Homo sapiens: one gene and its partner. The protein of the gene in region 2 purifies or fractionates together with the protein of the main gene of each other region. This does not show direct contact. Each region holds a gene or a part of one and is shown on either strand. Other genes may lie near its edges.

Region 1 (12,700 bases), on a different chromosome or scaffold from region 2:
ACCTCAATGCCAAATTCAGCGGATCTAAAACCAATCTCATCTTTTCCACCAAACCAAAAATCCTTCCCAATTTTCTTCTCTCTACCATTCCTCCACACCTAACAAGTCACCTGGCACTAGATATGTAATAATAAAATGATTTGATACCATTACTCTTTCATACACTCGATATTCAAAACCATGGCTTCATCTGTAGTGGATGTTGCAGTATGCTGCCCAGATCTCCCTGGCACTCCCCATTCAGGACCAAGGCATTCATAGCCCCCACTGCTGCTGCTGGGAGTGCTGGTTGCTGACAGCTCTCAGCCAAGTCCTCTTACTGGAGCCTACTTGCCCAAAGTCACACCTCCTTCCCACTGTCAGCCTGCACCCAATGACTGGTCAATGGAATCACACATTTAAATGTTATCCACGCATTTCCATAATCTCAATACAGAATGCAGTATACTGAAACATGGTTCATATGAAACACACAGTGTCCTAAGAATTAAATTTAAAGAGGTCATAGAAACAATCTGTTTCTTAAAGTAGGTTCATAAGCTTTTGCCTCAAAATTAACTGGGTGCTTGTAATCTGCAGATTCCTGAGACCCATTCTCAACTGCACTATTAGAATCTCTGGACTGGGCCCAAGGAAATCTGCATTCATAACAAGTCACTCAGTTGATTCTTAAGAACCCTACAGTTATGAGAACTACTAGTCTTACAAATCAATCATATATAATAGCAACTTATTTCTGATCCATTTAGCAAGCTAAAATCCTTGGTAACATTTGACCTAGGTAGCTCAATTCCTTGATTTAGTGTCACTTCAATATTAAAAGCCAGCAACCAAGCTGGGCACAGTGGCTTACACCTATAATCCCAGCTACTCCTGAGACTGAGGCAGGAGGATCCCTTCAGCTCAGGAGTTTGAGACTGCAGTGAGCTGTGATTTCACCACTGTCCTCCAGCTTGGTCAACAGAGCAAGACCCTGTCTAAAAAAACAAATAAATAAGTTAAAAAAAAAAAAAAAAAGAAAAAAAAACCCAGCAACCTCTCAAACTACTGTTTAGTATACCTCCACCTTCTGACTCAGAAATCCCATTCCTGGGTATGTATCAATAGAAATTAGTCCTTACATCTGTCAAAAGGCACACATAAAAATGTCTAGAGTGTCCAGAGCAGGCTTATTTATAACAGACAGAAAACAGAAATTAGCTGATTGCCCATCAACAGGAGAATGGATAAACTGTGGTATATGTATATAATAGTATACTACAGAGAAATAAAAAGAAAAAAAGTACTATGGCTCACACATCGATGGATTAATCTCACAAACATAATGTAGAGAGAAAGAAGCCAGAAACAAGAATATATACTTACATGATTTATTTTTATAGCGTTCAAAACCAGTCAAAATTAGCCTATGGTGACAGAAGTCATAATTGGTTGCTACCTTCTGTCAGGGAGTATTGATAAGAGAGAGGACATGAGAGCCTTCTGAGGGCTGGAAACATTGTATATCTTGATGCAGACGATGGTTACACAGGTGAATACATACATAAAAATTAATCTAGCTATCCACTTAAGCTGTACATCTTACTGTACATAAATTATACGTCAAAATAATAATAAAAATTAGTGGGTAGGGGAGTAACTAGCATAAGCCTGGCAAAAAGTCATACACTCAAATATTTTTTGTGATGACTATGAACTAGACAGTGGGCTAGGGACACTAAAAAAATAAAGACACTTGGGTCCCAGCCACAGAGTTCACAGGCATGTAAATAAACAACTGCAACACATATAAGAGCACTAGGTCACTAGCACATAAGTCACTAGGTGGCACCTAATTGGTTAGTTGGTCAGAGAAAATGTCACAAGGTCTCATCCCAGTTTAAATTTTTAAAAAATCTAATGTCTATAAAGAACACTTTGGGGACAACTAGAAAAATCTGAATCTAAACTATATATATTCATGTTACAGCAATGTTGAATTCCTAAGTATGATCACTGCGGTTATTTGGAAGAATGTCCTTATTCTTAAAGACATATGCTGAAATATCTATTTTCAACGAAGGTACACTAGGCTAAAGATACCAAGAAATTGGAGGAGGGTCAGAGAACTTAAACAAATGTTTAAAACAGGCCGGGTGCGGTGGCTCAAGCTTGTAATCCCAGCACTTTAGGAGGCCGAGGCGGGAGGATCACGAGGTCAGGAGATCGAGACCGTCCTGGCTAACACGGTGAAACCCCGTCTTTACTAAAAATACAAAAAATTAGCCGGACGTGGTGGCAGGCGCCTGCAGTCCCAGCTACTAGGGAGGCTGAGGCAGGAGAATGGCATGAACCCGGGAGGCGGAGCTTGCAGTGAGCCAAGATCGCGCCACTGCACTCCAGCCTGGGCGACAGAGCAAGACTCCGTCTCAAGGAAAAAAAAAAAAAAATGTGGAAAACAAATTGCTAAATTAAATGTGTGACCTTGAACGAGTTTCTTAAGACTCCGTACTTCTATGTCCTCATCTACAAAAGCAAAGGGTTGGACTAAGGTCCTTCCAAACTCTAGAGCTGCATTTCTTAATACCAGGGTAGAAGACAGCAACTGTTATAAAGAAAATAATATTGGAAATTTCCATAAGGAGAAATGAAGGCTTTTAAATGAACTTCCAAAAAGATAAAGATTTTGACTAGAATGAAAACGTATTTGTCACTAAATTCCCCATTTTCTAAAAACTAAATAGCACTCTTCTAAGATTCATAAGAAGGAAGTTCAAGGTCAAAAAGTCACTTCTATCGGGAAGCAAACTCACAGAACTCACTACCCCTAGGCTGAAAGTATGAACAACTTCAATAAAAATGAAAAAAAAAAAAAAAGGTAGGGGCGGGAGGGCCCTAAATCAATTCATACTATGACATGTATGAAGAGTTACTTCAGAAAAAAACCCAAAACTCTGGAATTGACTTAGGACACCAATAATGCCCTTCCACAGTTTTTTGTTGTCAAAGTTGGAAGGAAGATGTTTGTTTTCGAAGTTGTGGAGCCAACTCAAGTACACGGCTTTAGAACCAGACACCTCTGGGATTAAATCTCAGCTTTGATCTTACCTCCTATATGACCTAGTCCAAATTACTTGTTCTCTTAACCATAATATGTTCAACAATGATGCAGGTGTTGAATGACTTCCTCACAGTTGCTGAAAAACCTGAGAAACTACACGTAAAGCGCTTAGCACATTACCTGGCACACATCAAATATTCAAAACAAGGCCAGTAACTATTATGCTATAGCCTATCCAGAAATAAGGCTATACAAAAGATTATTTTCTTACCTCTCCAACTGGTTAGGTAGAAAACATAATCTTATTACTGCTATTAACAAGTAGAACAGTATACAACTACTTGGAGGAGAGGGGAAACTTCCCTACCTTGCCCCACAAAAGGCAAGTCAGTAAGCACCGCTGGTCCTCTGACATTCCCACCTATGACAGCTCCCAAGAAACACAAAAGTACTTTTGAAGGGCATTCCCCCCTGCCCAAAAAGGGGCGGCGCAAGTCTCAGCCCACCGTGCCAGACGCCGGAATGGCAGCAGAAAATGTCCTGACCCCCTCACCTCCACTCAGAGCCCACCTGCTCCCGCCCATCTCTTAGAAACTGCAGGAGCAGCCACGGCCGGGCCGCCGGGGATCCTCGCGGACTAAGGGCTGGGTCAGAGCCGCGCAAACATGGGCTCGCTCGTAGTCCTGGCGAGCAGCACTCCCAGGCAAGTCGCCCGAGGGCCTTGCAGGGCACCCAGAAAATGTCACTGCCGGCGAAGTGACCCCGAGCCGGGCCACGGGACCCCTCACACCTCACCCTTTCTCCTGCCGACCCTCGAGACGACAGCGGACTGGAAGGCATTACCTGAGCAGCAGCCCGCTGGGCCGTCCGAGGCCGGTGGTTCCGAAGGGTGGCCACGGCCACTAGCCTGCCGTAGAACATGGAGGCCGCCATTTCTGAGTCGGACCCCGTCCCCTCGGCGCCGCGCGCAGGCGCACAGGCGACAGGCGGCCCAAGGCGCAGCCTCTCTGCAGCGCTCACCTACGCCCCGCCTCGCGCCACCCGTTGGGGGCGGGGCCTCGGGTTAACACTGCAGCCGCTAGACCAGCTCCCTGGCGGGCGCGGAGCAAGCTTTGACCTTTGGAACTGGGCACCGCAGCCCCAATATCTGCCCTGCGGTCAGAGCAACCTGAACACTTCCTAGTGAATTGCAATGTAAAGGTGACCAGCGCCGCCACTTGGGTGATCTTAACTTCTCTCAGCCTCAGTTGCCTCATCTGTAAAATGTGTTTCATTCAAGAAATGATTACCCAGTGTCTACTTCGTGCTAAACAGCCTTGAGCCCTTGGCCTACAGCAATGAATAAAACCATTTGTGATGCTCAAAGAGAAGATGGTCGGTGTAACGCGCTTGTGATGCTCAAAGAGAAGATGGTCGGTGTCATGCGCTTCTGATGCTCAAAGAGATCGGTGTCACGCGCATCCGTGTGAAGACACCGCCAAACAGGGTGTGAGCAATAAGGCTGTTTATTTTAACTGGGTGCAGGCGGGCTGAGTCCGAAAAGAGAGTCAGCAAAGGGAGATAGGGGTGGGGCTGTTTTATAGGATTTGGATGGGTAGCGGAAAATTACAAAGGGGGTTTTTCTCTTACGGGCAGGGGCGGGGGTCACAAGGTGCTCAGTGGGGGAGGTTCTGAGCCAGGAGAAGGAATTTCACAAGGTTAATCACTCAGTTAAGGTGGGGCAGGAACAAATCACAATGGTGGAATGTCATCAGTTAAGGCAGGAACCGGCCAATTTCCCTTCTTTTGTGATTCTTCACTTGCTTCAGGCCATCTGGATGTACACGTGCAGGCTTGGGCTCAGAGGCCTGACAGTCGGCCACTAGTTACCAAAGCTGGTGGCAGGCTGGAGTCTCCAGGGAAGCTATTGATTGATTGATTGACTGATTGACAGGGTCTTGGTCTGTCACCCAGGCTGGAGTGCAGTGACGCGATCACAGCTCACTGCAGCCTCAACCTCCCATGCTCAAGGGATCCTCCCACCTCAGCCTCTGGAGTAGTTTGGGACCACAGATGTGTGTCACCAGGCTTGGTTGATTTTTTTATTTTATTTTTTTAGGGACAGAATCTCTCTATGTTGCCCAGGCTGGTCTCCAACTCGTGGGTTCAAGCGATCCTCCTGCCTCAGTCTCCCAAAGTGCTGGGATGACAGGTGTGGGCAACCACACCCAGCCAAGGATCTGGTTTTTGAAAAGATAAATAAATTTAACAAACCTCCAGCAAGACTGCAAAGAAAAAAGAAAAAGAGAAGACACAAATTACCAATGTGAGGAACATACCAGGGAATATAATTACAGAACCTTCAGACACCAAAAAGGAATGCCATAAATAACACCACATAACATAAATTTGACAACTTTGACAAGATGAGCGAATTCTTCAGAAGGCACAAATTACTACAAATAACCTAATATGAAAAGGTAATTTAAATAGTCCTCTAACTAGAGAAAATTGTAATTGTAATTTTTAAACTAAAAAAAAAAAAAACCTGAGATCTCCAGGCCCAAAAGCTTTCACTGATGAATTCTATAAAATGTTTACACAAGAATTAACACCAATTCCATACAGCCTCTTCCAGAAGATAGAAGAGGAAGGAACAGTTGCCAATGTACTGTATGAAGTTAGAATCACCCCACTACCAAAGCCAGCAAAAGACCGTACAAAAAGAAAAAAATACCAACACTTCTCATGAATATTGATGGAAAAATCCATAGCAAAATATTAGCAAATATAATTCAGAAATATATAAAAAGAATTGTACAATATGACCAAGTGGGATATATTCCAGAGATGTAAGTTTGTTTTAATATTTGAAAATATGTGTAATGCACTATATTAAGTTAGAAAAATCACATGATAATTTCGATCAAAACAAAAAAAGTAGCTGGGCACAATGGTTCATGCCTGTAATCCAAACACTTTGGGAGGCCGAGGTGGGAGGATTGCTTGAACCCAGGAGTTTGAGACCAAACTGGTTGGGCCACATAGCAAGACTTCATTTCTATAAATAATTTTAAAATTAGCCAGTCATGGTGGTGTACACCTGTGGTCCCAGCTACTCCAGAGACTGAGATGGGGGGGAAATCACTTGAGCCCAGGAGGTCCAGGCTGCAGTGAACCGTGATCGTGCCCCTGCACTCCAGCCTGAGTGACATAATGAGACCCCCATTACAAAAAAAAAAAAAAAACAGGCCAGGCATGGTAGCTCACGCCTGTAATCCCAGCACTTTGCGAGGCCGAGGCAGACAGATCATCTGAGGTCAGAAGTTTGAGACTAGCCTGACCAACACAGAGAAACCCCGTCTCTACTAAAAATACACAATTAGCTGGGTGTGGTGGCATGTGCCTGTAATTCCAGCTATTCAGGAGGCTGAGGCAGGAGAATCATTTGAACCAGGGAGGCAGAGGTTGCAGTGAGCCGAGATCGTGCCATTGCACTCCAGCCTGGGCAACAGGAGTGAAACTCCATCTCAAAAAAAAAAAAAACAAAAAAAGCATCTTACAAATTCCAACATTCATTCATGATTAAAAACTCAGATAAACAGGAATAGAGGGGAACTTCCTCATCTTGATAAACCGGATTACAAAAAACTTACGGCTAATATACTTAATGGTGAGAGAAGACTGAATGCTCTTCTCATAAGACTGGGAGCAAGGCAAGGGTGTTCGCTCTCACCACTTTTATTCAATATAGTGCTGGGAGTTCTTGTCAGTGCAATAGACAAGAAAAGCAATTACAAACATATGGAGTGAAAAGAAAGAAAGAAAACTCTCACTATTTACAGATAACATAATTGTTGCTATAGTTTGGATATCTGACCATCCAAACCTCATGGTGAAATCTGATTCTCCAATGTTAGAGGTGGGGCCTGGTGGAAGGTGTTTGGATCACGGAGGCCGATCCCTCATGAAGGGCTTGGTGCTGTCCTCTGGGTAATGAGAAGTTCTCATTGTATTGGCTCCTGTGAGAGTTCTCCCAAGAACTCATTGTTAAAAACAGCCTAGCACCTTCCCTCTTTCTCTCTCTCACTTCTGCTCTCTTCCAGTGTGATCTCTGCACATGCCAGCTCCCATTCACCCTCTGCCATTTGGGGAAGTTTCCTGAGTCCCTCACCAGAAGCAGATGCTGGCTCTAGGCTTTTTGTTTAGCCTGCAGAACCATGAGCCAAATAAACCTTTTTTCTTTATGAATTACCAACCCTCAGGTAATTTATACACAATTTTCACACGCGTCCATGTGAAGAGACCACCAAACTCACTTTGTGTGAGCAATAAAGCTTTTTAATCACCTGGGTGCAGGCGGGCTGAGTCGGAAAAGAGAGTCAGCAAAGGGAAATAGGGGTGGGGCCGTTTTATAGGATTTGGGTAGGTAAAGCAAAATTACAGTCAAAGGGTGTTGTTCTCTGGCAGGCTGGGGTGGGGGTCACAAGGTGCTCAGTGGGGGAGGTTCTGAGCCAGGAGAAGGAATTTCACAAGGTTAATCGCTCAGTTAAGGTGGGGCAGGAACAAATCACAATGGTGGAATGTCATCAGTTAAGGCAGGAACAGGCCATTTTCACTTCTTTTGTGAATCTTCAGTTACTTCAGGCCATCTGGATGAATACGTGCAGACTTGGGCTCAGAGGCCTGACAAGAATAAGATGATTGTCTGTGTATAAAATCCCAAACATTTTACCAAAAAAAAAAAAAAAAAACTCTTTGAATTGATAAGTGAGCCCTGCAAGATCTCAGGAAACAAGAAAAATATACAAAAATCAATTGTATTTCTAGGTACAAGCAATGAACACATGGACCCAAATCGAAAATACAATACCACCTAAAATTCCTTTTAAAAATGAAATGCATGTAAATCTAATAAAACATGAACAGGACTTACCTGCTGAAAACTACACAATACTGATGACATAAATCAAAGAAGATAAATAAGTGAAGAGATATTACCATGTTAATGGATTGGAAGACCTAACACAGTAAAGATGTCAATTCTTCCCCAAATTGATATATACATTTAATGTATTTCTATTAAAATTCAAGCAAAACTTTTTATACATACAGACGTAGTATTATAAACTTTATGTGAAAAGACAAACTAGAATAGCTGAAACAATTTTGAAAAGAACAAAGTGGGAAGAAACAGTCTGAGTTCAACATTTACTATAATAGCTACAATAATCAAGACTGTGTGGTATTGCTGGAGAGAGAGACACATAGATTGATGAAACTTAATAAGAAACCTAAAAATAGGCTCACACAAATATGCCCAACTGATTTTTGACAAAGGTGCAAAAGTAATTCAACGGAGGAAATATGGTCTTTTAAACAAATGGTGCTGGAGGAATTGGACATCCATAAGCAAGCAAACAATCAAAAAGAGCCCTGACCAAAATCTCACATATTATACAAAACTTAACTCAAAATTACCTTAACTGTAAAACACAAAACCATAAAACATTTAGAAAAAAATAGGAGAAAATTTCAAGATCTAAAACTAGGTAAAGAATTCTTAGACAACACCAAAAGCATGATCCATAAAAAAAAAATTGATAAATTGTGCCCCATCAAAATAAAAGCTTTGGCTTTGCAAAAGGCCATGTTAAGGTAAAAATTCAGCCAGGTGTGGTGGCTCACACCTGTAATCCCAGCATTTTGGGAGGCTGAGGGGGGTGGATCACCTGAGGTCAGGAGTTTAAGACCAGCCTGGCCAATGTGGCAAAACCTCATCTCTAATAAAAAAATATAAAAATTAGCCAGGTGTGTTGGCGCAGACCTGTAGTCCCAGCTACTTGGGAGGCTGAGGGAGGAGAACTGCTTGAACCTGGGAGGTAGAGGTTGCAGTGAGCCGAGAATGAGCCACTGCACTACAGCCTGGGAGAGACTCCATCTCAAAAAAAAAAAAGGATAAAAAGTCAAGCTACACACAGAGGAAAAATATTTGCAAACCACATCCAACAAAGCTAATACATAGAATATATGAATTACTTTCAAACACAACATATAAAAGCAAATAATCCAATTATAAAATAGGCAAAAAACATGAACATATATTTTCCCAAGGAGGACATATAAACAGCAAATAAGCACATGAAAAGATGTTCAACATCTTTAGACATTGGGGGAAATAAAAATTAAAACAACAATGTGGTATTACTACACACCTGTCAGATTAGCTAAAATAAAAAGTAGTGCAATAAAAATGCTGACATGGGCATGAATCATTCACACATTGCTGGTGGGAATGTAAAATGGGAAACAGTTTGTCAGTTTCTTCAAAAAACTAAACATGCAACTACGGTACAACCCAGGAAATGCACTCCTGGGCATTTATCCCAGTGAAAGGAAGACCTGTGTTCACACAAAAACCTGTACACTAATGTTTATAGCAGCATTATTCATAGTAGCCAAAAATTAGAAATAATTCTGATGTCCTCTAATTAATGAATAGCTAAACAAATTGTGATAAATTCATACCACAGAATACTAAGAAATAAAAAGGAATAAACGATTAATACATTCAGAATTCTACTGAGTTTAAAAAGCCAATCCCAGCCAGGCATGGTGGCTTATGCCTGTAATCCCAGCACTTTGGGAGGCCAAGTCGGGCAGATCATTTGAGGTCAGGAAGGAGTTCAAGACCAGCCTGGCCAACATGGTAAAACCACGTCTCCACAAAAATACAAAAATAAGCCAGGCATGGTGGCACATGTCTGTAGTCCCAGCTACTAGGGAGGCTGAGATAGGAGAATTGCTTGAACTGTGGAGACAAGGGTTGCAATGAACCAAGATCCGGCCACTGCACTCCAGCCTGGGCAACAGTGAGACTTTGTCTCAGAAAAAAAAAAAAAAAGGCCAATCCCAAAAGGTTACACATTATATGATTCCATTTTTTTTTTTTTTTCTTTAGACGGAGTCTCCCTCTGTCGCCCAGGCTGGAATGCCATGGCGTGATCTCGGCTCACTGCAACCTCTGCCTCCTGGGTTCAAGCGATTCTCCTACCTCAGCCTCCTGAGTAGCTGAGATTACAAGCGCATGCCACTACGCCCGTCTAATTTTTGTATTTTTAGTAGAGACTGGGTTTTACCATGTTGGTCAGACTGGTCTCGAACTCCTGACATCGTGATCCACCCGCCTCAGCCTCCCAAAGTGCCGGGATTACAGGCGTGAGCCACCGCGCCCGGCCTATATGATTTCATTTAAATAACATTCTCAAAATGACAAAATGGAGAACAAATTAGTAGGTGCCAGAATGAGAGAGAGGTATGGGAGAGAAGTATGGCTATAAAAGGACAACAAGAGGGATCCTTATTAGTGATGGAAATGTTCTGTATCTAGACTGTATCAATATCTTAGTTATGATGTTACTATTGTTGGAAACTAAGTAAAGGGTCCAAGGGATCACTCTGTATTATTTCCTACAACTGCATGTGAACCTATAATTATCTCAACCTATAATTATCTACCTATAATGAATGTAAACATTAAAAAAGAATGTATCATATTACAAGTCATTAATAAAATAAAAATTCATGGGCCCATAATTTAAAACTTAAATTAAAATGGGGGGAAAGGCCGAGCATGGTGGCTCACGCCTGTAATCCCAGCACTTTGGGAGGCTGAGGTGGGCGGATCACAAGGTCAGGAGTTCAAGACCAGCCTGACCAACATGGTAAAACCCCGTCTCTACTAAAAATACAAATATTGGCTAGGCGTGTTGGCGTGTGCCTGTAATCCCAGCTACTCAGGAGGCTGAGGAAGGAGAATTGTCTTAGCCGATAAGTGACGGAGCTGACCTTCTAAACCAGACTTGGCGACTCTAGCTGCAGAATTTTCCCCACAATACCACATTTCCTCTCTGCCCTGCCAATGGAATACAGAAAGATCTACTTCTTTTCTTCCTCCTTAATATGTCTGTAGCCTGTAATCTCTTGATCCGTCTACCGGGTCCCTCCCACAACAGGGAGGAATTATGGGAGCCACTATTCAAAACAAGATTTGGGTGGGGACTCAGAGCCAAACTCTATCAGGATTCAATGCAAGGGACAACTCATCTTGGAACCCTTTCCTGACTGCCTCTGCCTACCTCTCATGCTCCACTCTCACCGTGGCTGAGGCAGAAGTTGTTGTGCTGTGTATGCCTTTTCACAGCACATATCACATTATATTGAAATCACTGGGGTATTTGACCTCTTTTCCTCTCCAGACTTGAGCTCCTTGAAGGCAAGTCTATGCGCTTGATCTTTGGTGCTGATTCAGTGTCAAGAAGTTAAGTGCTGAATGAATGAAGAAATTTAACCAAAAAATAACTATTGAGTGAATGCCAGCTCTGTTCCAGCTGTGGATCTAAGCAGCTGAAGGTCCAATGGCAAGCAAAAATCCACACAGCATCACTGTTCACGTGACTTACACTCTACTTGGAGTGCAGACACGAGTTAAATACCCACACTAATGAATAAATAACTAAAACTAAAATATGTGCTTTGCAGGATGAAGAGTACGGCTCAACAAGAGCAGTTAAAAAGGACCATGACCTTGACTATTTTTGTTCCTTTCATTTTGTTTTCATTTGTTTATTTGTTTGGATTTTAGATGGAAGAGATCTGAGTATGATTAAGACTTAATGGGAATAATTCAGGTGCATGTGAGAGGTTAAATAATAGCAAACAATAAAAGGAGAGAAAATGATTAAATAACACAGTAGGCCTCTTGAGGATAGAAAGAATTCTACAACTCTTGTCGAGACACTAGCCTGGATGAGAGAAGAAACACCTCTCCTGAAGCCACAGGAGGGAAAACTGAGGAAGTAGATGCAGAGGTAGGTAGAGGGTAGGTTTTGTACAAGTGAATTGAATGAGGTCCTGTCAAAAGCTTAGATTTTGTCTGAGTGAAAGGAGTCAAAATGATCTACTGGAAATTAGGTGAAAGGTGAGGGAGTCAGAAATTTGAAGGGAGTGAAGAGGGTTTGAAGTTTTCATTATAGAGTGCAGGAAAGAAAGTTAACAGAAAAAAGTAGCAGGATTGCTGGGGTGTGTTAAGAACCATCTGAGGTTGGTGATGGTGACTATATACCTACAAAAATGTGCCTATTGTGTAATTTTTCTCCAGCAGCCTGGGAGGCCCGGGGCAAACACAGGGAAAGCAAACCATTGTGTTCATTCAGGGTGTGGTTTTGCCAAATTGTAATGAGGAAGTGGCAGTGGGTCAAGGCAATTTAGAGTATTTGGTGAGAATGTTATTGAAATAAAAGACCATGAATCCAAGAGGAGAAGCCTGATGGACTGGAAGGAGTAAAGGAGAGGGGGCAGTAGTGGACTGGAGGACCCAAGGAGATTAAAGAACAACAATAGCGAAAATGGTTGAATATGAGGCTAGAAGGGAAAGTAGAAGCATGGCTTGTGGAAAGTGGGGTGGTGGAGCTACCCCGAACGTTCTCCAAACATTGCACTTCTTCAACAATGTTCAGGATATTAAAATTATGATGAAAAGGTATTAGAGGATACAGCATGAAAGCTAGGCAGTGAGAGCCAAGATGCAAAGACAAGTAGTAAAAGGTGATGACTTTTTAGCATCCTTGTTGCTCCTCTGTCAATCACTATTAGCACAGGCCTCAGATTACACTCTACGCT
Region 2 (12,735 bases):
ATAAAACACATGGAAGCAATGCATTTTACCCAGCACAAGTAAATCAAGATTCCTGTTACCTTTCCGTCCTTAATTGTAGCAAAACACGCAGCCTCAATTCTTGCAGCATGGTCAAAAAGTCCCATGTGGCGCAGCATCATCACGGCACTGAGCAGGAGGGCTGTGGGATTCGCCATGTCCTTGCCTGCAATGTCTGGAGCCGTCCCATGAACCTACACATCGGGAAAAGTAGCATCATCAAGGGAGAGACAAAAACTAACAGTCCTCTTCTGGGGAAGCTGGAGTCTTAACCATCTTTCCTCAGCAATACAAAATATGCACTGAAAGCTACTGCGTGCAATTCATCTGATATGGACTGAAGAAATAAAGTCTGGGTTGGGCGTGATAGCTCACACCTGTAATCGCAACACGTTGATAGGCCAAGGCAAGAAGATCACTTGAGGCCAGGAGTTCAAGACCAGCCTGGGCAACATAGTGAGACCCCATTTCTACAAAAAAATTAGCAATTAGCCAGGCATGGTGGTGCCTGACTACAGTGCCAGCTACTTGGGAGGCTGAGGCAGGAGGATTGCTTAAGCCTAGCAGTTCAAGCCTGCAGTGAGCTATGATCACACCAGTGTACTCCAGCCTGGGTGACAGAACAAGGCCCTAGCTCAAAAATAAATAAATAAATAAATAAAGACTTGGAGAAATAAAGAGCTAAAGTAATTTTTTTAAGTATAAAAATATGGACCAACAATCTTTTTCAGTCAATTTTTGGTAAAATATTTTAAGGAAGGAAGGATACATAATAAATACCTGGAGGGAAATGAAGAGATAAACCAAACATATATATATGTTTATATATGGGTGTATATAAAAACAAACATAGGCTGGGTGCAATGGCTCACACCTGTAATCCCAGCAACTTTGGGAGGCCAAGGCGGATGGATCATCTGAGATCAGGAGTTCAAGAACAGCCTGGCCAACATGGTGAAACCCCATCTCTACTAAAATACAAAAATTAGCCAGGTGTGGTGGCTCACACCTGTAATCCCAGCTACTTGAGAGGCTGAGGCAGGAGAATCACTTGAACCTGGGAGGCAGAGGTTGCAGTGAGCCAAGATCGCACCACTGTACTCCAGCGTGGGTGACAGAGCGAGACTCCGTCTCGAGAAAAAAAAAAAGCATCATTTTGTTTTGACAATTTGAAAAACTGGAGTTAAAGCATACTTATACAGATAACTCCTCCTGAGTTCACACGCTGTTCTGACCTGAGTTCTGTTTCAGGTGTCAGGGTCCTTACCGACTCAAAAATTGCAACCCCATTGGCTCCAATGTTGCCACTTGGTGTCACACCGAGACCTCCGATCAATCCTGCACACAAGTCACTAGCGGAAGAAAAGCATTTCAAAGAATGTTTTTAAAAATAAAACATCTCACCTAGCACCCAGATTTTAGTTTTTAATTATCATTCTCCACTAAAAGGAAGTAGCATTCCTTGGATAAATGGCTGATTCCAGGGCAAAGGTTAGGAAAATACAGATGAGCCTCGAGCATCTTACTGTGTCAGAAAGCAAGGCAAGGCTCAAAGAACAAAGGGCCGTGTCTAAAGGACACAGAAGACATGGTGAAGGGACCCCCATCAGCCAAGTTAGGACAACCTATGCATCAATATTCATGATTATGATGATGGATATATCACTGAATAAAACAGAAAACCATGTCCACAGCTGGGCTCAGTGGCTCATGCCTGTAATCCCAGCACTTTGGGAGGCCAAGGTGGGCAGATCACTTGAGGTCAGGAGTTCCAGACCAGCCTGGCCAACATGGCGAAACCCCGTCCCTACTAAAAATACAAAAATTAGCCAGGTGTGGTGGTGTGCACCTGTAATAATACCAACTACTCAGGGGAGGCAGGAGAATCACTCGAACCTGGGAGGTAGAGGTTGCAGTGAGCCGAGATTGTGCCACTGCACTCCAGCCTAGGCGACAGAGCAAGACTCTGCCTCAAAAAAAAAAAAAAAATGAAAATCACCATTTGGCCAACATCTTATGTCTGTGTGTGTCGGGGGGGGAGAGAGAGAGAGAGAGAAGCACAGACAAAGGAGAGGAGGAAGAGGAAGGGAGGGAAAGTGGGAAGGAGTAATAAAGTAAATGTGATAAAATGCTGACATCTGGAGAATGTGGAATCAGGGTGCTGAGTACAAGGGAATTCTTTGTACTATTCTTACAACTTTTCTGTAAGTCTGAAATTATGTCAAAAGTTACCAAAAAATAGTAACAATGACCACCCACCTACCTAGCTATACATAACAAAACCTTAAAATCAATCAATCAATCAAACATTTAAAAACTGGGAAGAGTGACCTAATAATGATTAGGGAGAAAGAGCCCAGCAATGATTTGGCAAATCAATGAAGGAACAAGCCACCCAACATGTAATCATTCATATCACAACCTGAACTGTTAGAATTCAATTCATATGTTACAACAAATACTCTATTTCACAATACTCAATTGAAAATGTTAAGCCATAATTATTTTAGGATGTTTATAAGTAAATCATAGGCTAAAATAAATAGGTTGCAGCCAGACTCACCTAAGGATGTCTCCATACAAATTTGGCATAACAAGAACATCAAATTGGGAAGGATCTTGTACCATCTACAAGGAATACATTTGTGCATTTAGTAATCAAAATCTGCATCCCCACAACACACAGACACCATTCACCATAAAAAGTAGCAGGTAAGTGTGAATATATACTTACATTCAAACATACTGTATCAAGGTACATCTCATTAAATTTAATATCTTTACAGCTTTCTGCAACTTCCCTGCATTTTTGTAGAAAAAGCCCATCTGACATCCGCCTGTATTTAATCAAATAAAAACTGCTGAAAAAAAAGTCTTACAGAAAGAAAAGAATCAAATCAAAGAAGTAAAGTAAGTTCAAGACATTTAAGTTCCAGAAGCCAAGCTACCTGATCCCAATTACAATAAAATTATTTCTTAGGTAGTTAATAAAATATAAGCTGAAAATGTTTTAGGATCCTTCTGAAAGTATAAAAGAGTAAAAATGTAAAATAGTTTGATCATAACAGAGAAGACTATATTTTTATAGTGTTATCTAACAAGAATGAAGAAATACCCACTAATATTATTAAAATTGCTTTAAAAGGTTAACATAGTAATTTAAATAGTTTTACTATTTTGCATGTTCAATGCTTTTCTTAGGTTAGGAAAACTGTTAATATATTCAGAGGACTTTAACAGCCTCTGGATGAGAATTTAAGTTGCTGGAGTAACACATCAGGTATTGTTAGCACTACTTTAAGCCTCCCACTATTCCACTTCTAAAACGTACGCTATGTGGCCTCTGCTGATGGCCACAGCATCTGGGGACCCCGAGGCTCCAATTTCCTTTCCTGATAACCCTCAGTCCTTCCTTGAGCTTCCAGGACCTGAATCACCATCCCCTCCTCATTTGCTCCTGTCATTCGCCCAGGGAGGCGCAGTAAACAGGAGACTCCAGGCCGGGCGCAGAGGCTCATGCCTGTAATCCTAGCACTTTGGGAGCCCAAGGCGAGCGGATCACTTAAGGTCAGGAGTTTGAGACCAGCCTGGCCAACATGGTGAAACCCCATCTCCACTGAAAATACAAAAATTAGCCGGTCATGGTGGCATGTGCCTGTAGTCCCAGTGACTCGGGAAGCTGAGGCAAGAGAATTGCTGGAACCCGGGAGGCGGAGGTTGCAGTGAGCCAAGATCGCGCCACTGCACTCCAGCCTGGGCAACAGAAAGAGACTCCGTCTCAAAAAAAAAAAAAAAAAACAGAGGAGAAAAGAGGAGACTCCGACAGAAGAGAGATGCCGTATCTTTGGATTGTTACAAAGTTCTTTTTCAAAGATATTAGGAATCAAGGAACAAGCTGAAGAGGAGAAAGGGAAGCCCTGTCACTGCTCTCCCACAACAAAGCAAGATGGGGTGCCGGCCCCCGCAAGGAGCTCACATGATGTTGGCTTTGTGCACCGCCGTGACGTTGCTCCGGTGGTTGTTCCGGGCATACTCAAAGGCAAACTCAGCAATGCGCTTGCTCGCCCCCTCGGTGATGAGCTTGATACTCTGCACGACTCCATCAACAATCTGCAAGACAGGAAGTCCCACCTTGCTGGAAAGAGTGTGACAGCAACGCAGTGGGAGACAGAGGGTGGGGAGTAGACAGTAACATTTGTGGCAGGCCTGCACAGTGCCAGCTAGCATGACTAATCACACACACTGCTACGACAATGGGGTTCATGTTAACTCCAGCCCTAAGAGGTAAGTATTATGAGCCCCACTGCACAGATGAAGAAAACTGAGATGCAGAGACAGTCATCTGCGGAAGAGCGCACCTGTGAAGTGGGGGATTCAAAATTCAGAGGGCATATTCCCAAGCTTGTGACGCGAACCACCATGCCTTACATTTGTTTGAGTACTGTCAGCCAGACACCCAGCACCAAGACAAACACCCACAACTCCTCACAGAGATAAAGCAGATCTGTCTCTGGGGTCCCAGATGCACAGAAAGCAGTCCAAGCAGGAATAAAAAAGAATCTGGAGTGAACATACCACATGCTCAATTCCACTGTATTCTCCTTCTGTGTTCTCTCGAATGGTCACAATATTTACATCGGTGTAAGGGGTTTTATAGCCTTCGATAGAGACACATGGTCGGACATTCGCGTAAAGGTCAAATGTTTTGCGCAGCAGTAAATTCATAGATGGGTGACCGGCTGCTATTGGGGTCTTCAAAGGGCCTGTTATACAGAAGAAAACCCAGATGACACTAGAAGGAATTCTGGTCTCACGTGTGACCTACTAACCCACCTCGGCTACCTTGTGAAATGTGTTCTGCCTCTAGTTCACTCTCTACCTGAGATTCAAATGAAGGAGGAACACTTCCTCACGGGAGCTTTCTGGAACATTAACTGCGTTTCTTATCTTCAGAACTTCCTGAGGATCAAGCATTGTAATCATGTGCTTGACATGATATAATCCTTATCATCACCCCGTACAACAGCAACTCTGTTACTGTCATTTAAAAATGACGAAAAAAGAAAAAATAAGAATAAAAAATTTGCCCAAGCCTTCTAGCCAGTAAGTAGCAGAGATGAGATTCAATGTTGGTTCTGTCTGTGGCTTTAAAGCCTATGCTTGCTCTGGCCTACAGTCTCAGGCCTGTAATCCCAACACTTTGGGAGGCCAAGGCAGGCGGATCGCTTGAGGTCAGGAGTCCAAGACCAGCCTGGCCAACATGGGGAAACCCTGTCTCTACTAAAAATACAAAAATTAGCTGGGCGTTGTGGTGTGTGCCTGTAATCCCAGCTACTTAGGAGGCTGAGGCAGGAGAATAGCTTGAATCCAGAAGGCGGAGGTTGTAGTGAGCCGAGATCACGGCACTGCACTCCAGCCTGGGCAACAGAGCGAGACTCTCAAAAAATATAAAAATAAAGCCTATGCTGAATTTAAATCTACCACATGCTAGTATTTTTGAATTATGGCCTTAAACATGTATTAATTAAAATAATAATAAAAATGTAGGCCAGGCACAGTGGCTAAGTCAGGCCTGTAATCCCAGCACTTTGGGAGGCAGAGGCAGAAGGATTGCTTGAGCTTAGGTATTCCAGATCAGCCTGGGAAACATAGTGAGACCCCATCTCTACAAAAAACTTTTTAAAAAATTAGTTGGGCATGGTGGCACACCTGTAGTCCTAGCCACTCGGGCGGCTGAGGTGGGAGGACTGCTTGAGCTCAGGAGGTCAAGGCTGCAGTGAGCTGTGATCACACCACTGCACTCCAGCCTGGGCAACAGAGCGAGACTCTGTCACAAAAAAATTAAGTAAATAAATAAATATACAAATGTAAAAATTAAGCAAAAGATATATATAGTTGAAGATTAAATAGAGATACTGTTATTTGGCATCATCCAGTAATACTTTAATGTTTTTTACTGGGGGAAAAAAATGTCCCAAATGAATAAAACATCTTACTATGAGTAGTTACTTCATAAAAGAATGGCGTTACCTTCACAGATGGCCAGGCCTTATTCAGTTTAAATGCATAAATTTTCAAAACTAAGTAACCCCTGTAGCGGAAATCTGTAAAAACCCCCGTCTCTACTTCAGTGCTACCTTTCAAGCCCATCTTGTTCTTATCCATGGACTCTTTAGCCTCTGAAGGGATCATCCACTTTCCTCCAGGTCCTTGAATGGCAGTGACGTTCCGCTCCTCCCACTGAATAGGTGCCTAGATGCCACATCACAGAGCACAGTGAGCTGGAGAGACTTAAAGGAAACTGGCATTCATACTGCAATGATGAACAAACTTTTTCAACTTCGTTTTTGAGATAGAGTCCCGCTCTGTCGCCTAGGCTAGAGTGCAGCGGCACAATCTTGGCTCACTATAACCTCCGCCTCCCAGGTTCCAGCGATTCTCATGCCTCAGCCTCCTGAGTAGCTGGGATTACAGGCGCCCACCACCACACCCAGCTAATTTTTTTGTATTTTTTTTGTAGAGACAGGGTCTCACCATATTGGCCAGGCTGGTCTCAAACTACTGACCTCAGGTGATCTGCCCACTTCGGCCTCCCAAAGTGCTGGGATTACAGACGTGAGCTACCGGGCCCAGCCCTTTTTCAACTTTGGATGTGACTGCTAAAAACAGTAAAGGTCCAGAAGGTTCCTGGCATGCAAGAAGAGATGTCATTCTCTAGCAGGCCCAGAGGGATTCTCTACATTATCTGTGCCCAGTCATCACTCCCAGCTACCACCTGCCCACTTATTTCTTTTCACAAGGGCTCTTAACAGTGGCTATAGTTAGAATATCATAAGTAGCAGAGGAATATGGTTCACAGAAACATCATATAGTACTGATACATGGATGAAACTTAAAAACATCATGCTAAGTGAAAGAAGCCAATCATAAAAGACCATATATTATAAGATTCTATTTATATGAAATGTCCCAAATAGGCAAATCTACAGATACAGAAAGTAGATGAGTGGTTGGCTGCCTAGGGTGGGGGAAGAAAAAGGAGGAGGGGGTAGGGAGGGAGAGAGACGAAATGGGGAGCGACTGCATAGGGTATGGGGTTTCTTTTTCGGTGAGGAAAATGGTCCAAAATTAGATTGTGGTGATGGTTGCATAACTCTGTGAATGTACTAAAAACCACTGGATTGAAAGGTACATTTTAAAAGGATGAATTAGGCCCAGTGTGGTGGCTCACGCCTGTAATCCCTGCACTTTGGGAAGCCAAGGTGGGTGGATCACCTGAGGTCAGGAGTTCCAGCCCAGCCTAGCCAACATGGTGAAACCCCGCCTCTACTAAAAATACAAAAATCAGCTGGGCGTGGTGGCAGGCACCTGTAATCCCAGCTGCTCGGGAAGCTGAGGCAGAAGAATAGCTTGAACCTGGGAGACGGAGGTTGCAGTGAGCCAAGATCATGCCATTGCACTCCAGCCTGTGCAACAAGAGCGAAACAATGTCTCAAAACAAATGAAACATAAAAATAAAAAATAAAGGATGAATGATATCTCCATAAAGCTGTTTTTAAAAAACAATATTACATTGTTTAAAATATATATATAGGCCAGGCCCGGTGCAGAGGCCAAGGTGGGCAGATCACCTGAGGTCAGGAGTTCGAGACCAGCCTGACCAATATGATGAAACCCTGTCTCTACTAAAAATAAAAAAATTAGCCAGGCGTGGTGGCATGTGCCTGTAATCCCAGCTACTTGGGAGGCTGAGACAGGAGAATCGCTTGAACCCGGGAGGCAGAGGTTGCAGTGAGCCGAGATTGCTCCATCGCACTTCAGCCTGGGCAACAAGAGCAAAACTCTGTCTCAAAAAAAAAAAAAAAAAAAAAAAAAAAAAATATATATATATATATGTATGTATGTATTGCATAACCTATGAATGTACCAGTTGGAGGTATAAACAAGCATCCCTTTCTCTCTACCTACATCCTTCATGTGTATACAGCTAGCACACTGAACATGTCCTAGGACACGAGCTCAGACAGACACGGTGCTGTTCACAAGCAGCTTACAGCTGAATCCACTTACAGAATTTTTAAATTATCTACCTGTATCAAAGGCTCAGCTGTTAGAAGTAATAACATTCCATTCTTGATAACACATCAGAAATTTTATTTTAAAGAGATTATTTCAAAAGCGCCTGTATAGATTTTGGAAACAGCAATTCTAGTCTTATTTTATTTTATTTTTTGCAAAAAGGTGGGTGATTTGGCAGGGCTTAAAAGATCTTAAACCCAAGCAGGACTTAAAGATCCACAAATACTGCAGTACTACTTTGATTACTTTACATATAACTGATGCCAATGCAGGAGTTTAAACTATCAACAACAGGAGCAGCCAGCCAGGTGCGGTGGCTCACGCCTATAATCCAAGCACTTTGGGAGGTGAAGGTGGGAGGATCGCTTGAGCCCCAGAGTTCAAGACCAGCCTGGGAATAGAGCGAGACCTCATCTCTAAATTTAAAAAAAAAAAAAAAAGAAAGAAAGAAATAATGGCAGTAGCAAACACTGAGACACACACTGTTAAAGTGACAATCGGTGGAGATTAACAACAGACCTGACTAAATTTCATAGAAATGGGTACAATGCATCCTAAAAGTTCACAGAATCCAACTGGCTAAGAAAACTTTTCAGTGAGTCATCATTAAATGTATTTTTTAAGCCCACTTACTTTGGCAGCATCAAAAATCTTCATAACTGCAGCTGAAATTTCTGGGCCAATACCATCTCCTGGAATTAAAGTTACTGTCTGAACCTGAACATAAGAAATCATCAAAGAAGACAGTAAGAATTTTTGTTTTTGAAGGCTTAAAAAAGAATATTTTGACAGAGAAATCCACTTTATGAGATGTCTCAGGAAGATTCAAATGCTGTTAAGAAAACAAACATACCTCCCCGGGGGTCATCAAAGGGGAGGCAGGAATCAACAGAGGAGAGACTCTGCAATCCTACTCTTTACCTGAGTTCAGAGGTTTTAAAAAGAACCAAATGATACTCTTTACATAAAACGAAAATAAATTAAACTACCAAGTAGATTTCCTAATTGATATTTCTTTTCAGACAAGCTGCAAAGAGACCAATTAATTCAAATCTTTTAAACCAAAGACAACAACAACAAAAAATTAACAATGTTCTCTCACTAAAATTTAGACGGTTTCTCATGAAGGCAAGTGTTTTCCTTTCCTTTCCATTGTGATCCTGGAAAGCTTCTCATGCAACTTCTTCAGTCTTGCAAAACATTTTCAGACACATTTCCAAAATATTACTGAGGTCTGTTTTGGTACTCAGGGAAAATCAGACTTTTTATCAAGAGAGCTTCCATTTTTTTCTTAGTTCCTCTATAAAACTGTCTGCTTAAATCTAAGAGTAATCTACATAAGCTTGGCAAAGTTGATCTGCAACCAAAAAGAATAGTATATGTCATCATACCTGCAAAGCCTGAGTCACACTTAGAATGACAATTATTGTTTTTATAATGTAACAGCAATGATTTATTCTAAGGCTTCAGGCAAAACGAAGCCAGCATTTCAAATGCAGAAATAAAAATATGTAAGGGAGAAGATCAGCACCTCTTTTTCCATTTGGGAACCACATATTTTATTATCTTGGGACTTTACCCCACCTAGGGGCTTGGCTTTTTTTCAGTTCTAGTTGCTTGAACTGCATTTTTAAAAAGTCACTAATTCAAGTTTCCTTGGTCCTTTGCCTTCCAATGATGTCTGCCCAGATACGTGGACTAATTATTTCTGATTAGTTTCTGTACAACTGAAGAAACATTTTTATTTTTTTCATTTTTCTAATTTTCAATTTTTATTTTTTAGAGATGAGGACTCACTACATTGCCAGGCAGGAGCACAGTGGCTACTCACAGGTGTGATCACAGCTCACTGCAGCCTCGAACTCCTGGCCTTAAGCAAATCTCCCACCTCAGTCTTAGCCAGGGCTAAGGCTCATACCAGTTTTCTCGGGTTGAAGAAGTCTTTAAAAAAATTAATACATCCTCTTATTTCTTCAAAAATAACCTCCTCCATCAAGCTAATTTTTTTTTCAAATAAATAGCCTGAAAATTAAATAATAGCAGAGAGCAATGATCATCTTATTAGCTTTCAGAATGCGTTTGAAATGCTAGCATGGCTATCCTTGAGCTTGAAGTGCAAGCCCCATCCTGCATTTTTGGCATAAGCAGAGCCAAAAGAACGCTTTGGCTACTTCTTCCTGTTCTCCCAACATGTAATAATAAATGTCATCCAGTCACCAGAAAATCTGCTTTTCTTCCACAATACAGAAAGTAAATGGAGGAAAAAATGTACTATGGTCTTATAAATCTTTCACGGCATAGATGTTATATGGGAGTATAGGAATTATGAAATCCAAATCAGATTCCATAAAAGGCGGGGCGGGGATCAAAACAAATAGGAAGTCACTGACCCACAGTCTTAGAATGTTCCAAAAATGTGGTATCAGCTTTTAAAGCACAGAATTCTGATGCTGGGAATTCTAAAAGCAGCAGATTTAATGAACAATAGATGATCTACTACTGTGATAGTCTACAAAGCCTATATAAGGCAAGTATAAGCCTACAAGGCTTATAGATGTTCGAGGCATTCCTAATTGGCACTCAATCTACTGGGTTTAGGGAAGCCCATAAAATAAAAATGCAAAGCAGGTTTTGAAGCTTCTCAACAATTTTCTCTCAACTTGTACTAGTTTTGAAAAAAGCTGTCTCACCAAAATGAGATTGTGAAATAAAATAACAGGCTCAAGGGTACTTTCTATTTTTAACAAGGCTCCCTCAAGATATTAATGTGACAAACTTACATAGCCAGCTGTAAGATAATTCTTTCAAATGCGCAAGTAACCTAACAGATTTGTGCATGTCAGCCAGTAATTTCAACATACATTATAAATATGGCCAATTTTCCCAAATTCTAAATGAATGGAGATAAAATGCTATATAATAAATATGTTAGAGCATCTTTCTTGAGAAACTTCTAAAAGGAAAAAATAAAAGACATAATTATACTCACACCACCAGTAAAACCTCTGGTCACCTGTTTTGGGTTGTGGAATGCCCCCAGCAGCCGAGAGACCTATATTAATATCAACAGAGAAATATCACACACAGAATTAAACCACATACAGTAAACAAGAGCGAGGAAGTCCTGATGGATGGTAATGCTGCAACTTGGCACAGATATATTCAGTAGCTTCCCAGGAATACAAATCTCATGTATTAGCTCAATGTGGCAAGCTATCTCAGATTTGAAAGCCTAAATACTCAGATTTTTACTTTAGATTGAGTACTGTATATTTTCAAAGTCAATTTAACGAATATAAGTTGTCAAATAAAAGATGTTGAAGGTAGAATAAAACTACTTTTTCAGCTCAACATACAGATTCTTCTCAGATGAGTGGATCATTTTGTGCCAACATTCTTGACCATTCGGTCAATTTAGGGGTAACATATATTCTAAGAAAATTACCATTAATTTTAGAGCCAGGATGTTCCTCATGAAATCCAGAGCACAACTCACTTATTTCTTGTTGTTGTTTTAGGCTTTTTGAGATGGGGTCTCCCTAGGTTGCCCAGGATGGAGTGCAGTGACTATTCAAAGGCACAATCATAACTCACTGCAGTCTCCAACTCCTGGGCTCAAGTGACCCTCTTGCCTCAGCCTCCTGAGTAGGTGGGATTACAGGTGTGCACCACGACACCTGGCAACTTGCTTATTTCATAAGCGGAGATGCTGGTCCCAAAGAAAAGCATTTGCCTAAGGTCACACAGCGAATAATTGGCAAAATGGAAACCCACATACAGGTCTTCTGACTCCTGGTCCAGTGCTCCTTCAATTATACATTATATCTATTCTGTGAATATTAAGAAATTACACTTTATAGTAAAATCTAAGAAAGTTTATTTAATACCATCTGATGCCCATGCCATACAGAATAAAGATTTTAAATAAATTACTGCTTCTTCTGATAATATAGGTAATGTGGTCATTACTGTCAGTTTGCTGGGACTAGGAAAAGATACAAAATATAAAATAAAAGTTACCCAGTAATCCCACCACACCAAGATATTACCACTGGTACGTGTTTTTTTTTTTTTTTCTCTCTCCAATTAACATCATATGCCAGAAATATAAATTTTAAAGGTTTATTATAAACTTTAATAACTTAGTCCTTGAGAACTGGTACAAAGTCATACTACATTATTATAAACAATATAAAAAAAGAAACTGGGTACATAGACCAAAGGTATTAAAATGCATTAAATTTTTTTTTTTTTGAGACAGAGTTTCACTCTTGTTGCCCAGGCTGGAGTGCAATGGTGCAATCTCGGCTCACTGCAACCACCACCTCCTGGGTTTGCCTCAGCCTCCTGAAAGTAGCTGGGATTACAGGGATGCACCACCATGCCCGGCTAATCTTGTTGTATTTTTAGTAGAGACAGGGTTTCTCCATGTTGGCCCGGCTGGTCTCAAACTCCTGACCTCAGGTGATCCACCTGCCTTGGACACCCAAAGTGCTGGGATTACAGGCATGAGCCACCACACCCGGCTGCATTAAATTTTTTAAAAAGTAACTTTTTCTCCTGCTAGATACATGAGCAAAGACACATTTGTTATATCCTATCTTGATGTTTTTTTCTGGGGTCTGAACCTTTGCTGAA

Evidence for each region.
Region 1: the proteins of IDH3A (region 2) and SUCLA2 fractionate together in Homo sapiens (co-fractionation; 2 studies listed by BioGRID). This does not show direct contact.

The regions. Positions count from the first base shown.
Region 1 is NC_000013.11:47,997,297-48,009,996, forward strand, and holds the start of SUCLA2 (succinate--CoA ligase [ADP-forming] subunit beta, mitochondrial precursor), read right to left. Parts: upstream 3,978-12,700; 5' UTR 3,974-3,977; coding exon 3,884-3,973; intron 1-3,883. UniProt on the Homo sapiens protein: ATP-specific succinyl-CoA synthetase functions in the citric acid cycle (TCA), coupling the hydrolysis of succinyl-CoA to the synthesis of ATP and thus represents the only step of substrate-level phosphorylation in the TCA.
Region 2 is NC_000015.10:78,153,627-78,166,361, reverse strand, and holds part of IDH3A (isocitrate dehydrogenase [NAD] subunit alpha, mitochondrial precursor), read right to left. Parts: intron 11,150-12,735; coding exon 11,087-11,149; intron 9,455-11,086; exon of another isoform or gene 9,200-9,454; intron 8,815-9,199; coding exon 8,731-8,814; intron 6,271-8,730; coding exon 6,156-6,270; intron 4,782-6,155; coding exon 4,594-4,781; intron 4,129-4,593; coding exon 3,995-4,128; intron 2,856-3,994; coding exon 2,753-2,855; intron 2,647-2,752; coding exon 2,582-2,646; intron 1,371-2,581; coding exon 1,286-1,370; intron 213-1,285; coding exon 60-212; intron 1-59. UniProt on the Homo sapiens protein: Catalytic subunit of the enzyme which catalyzes the decarboxylation of isocitrate (ICT) into alpha-ketoglutarate.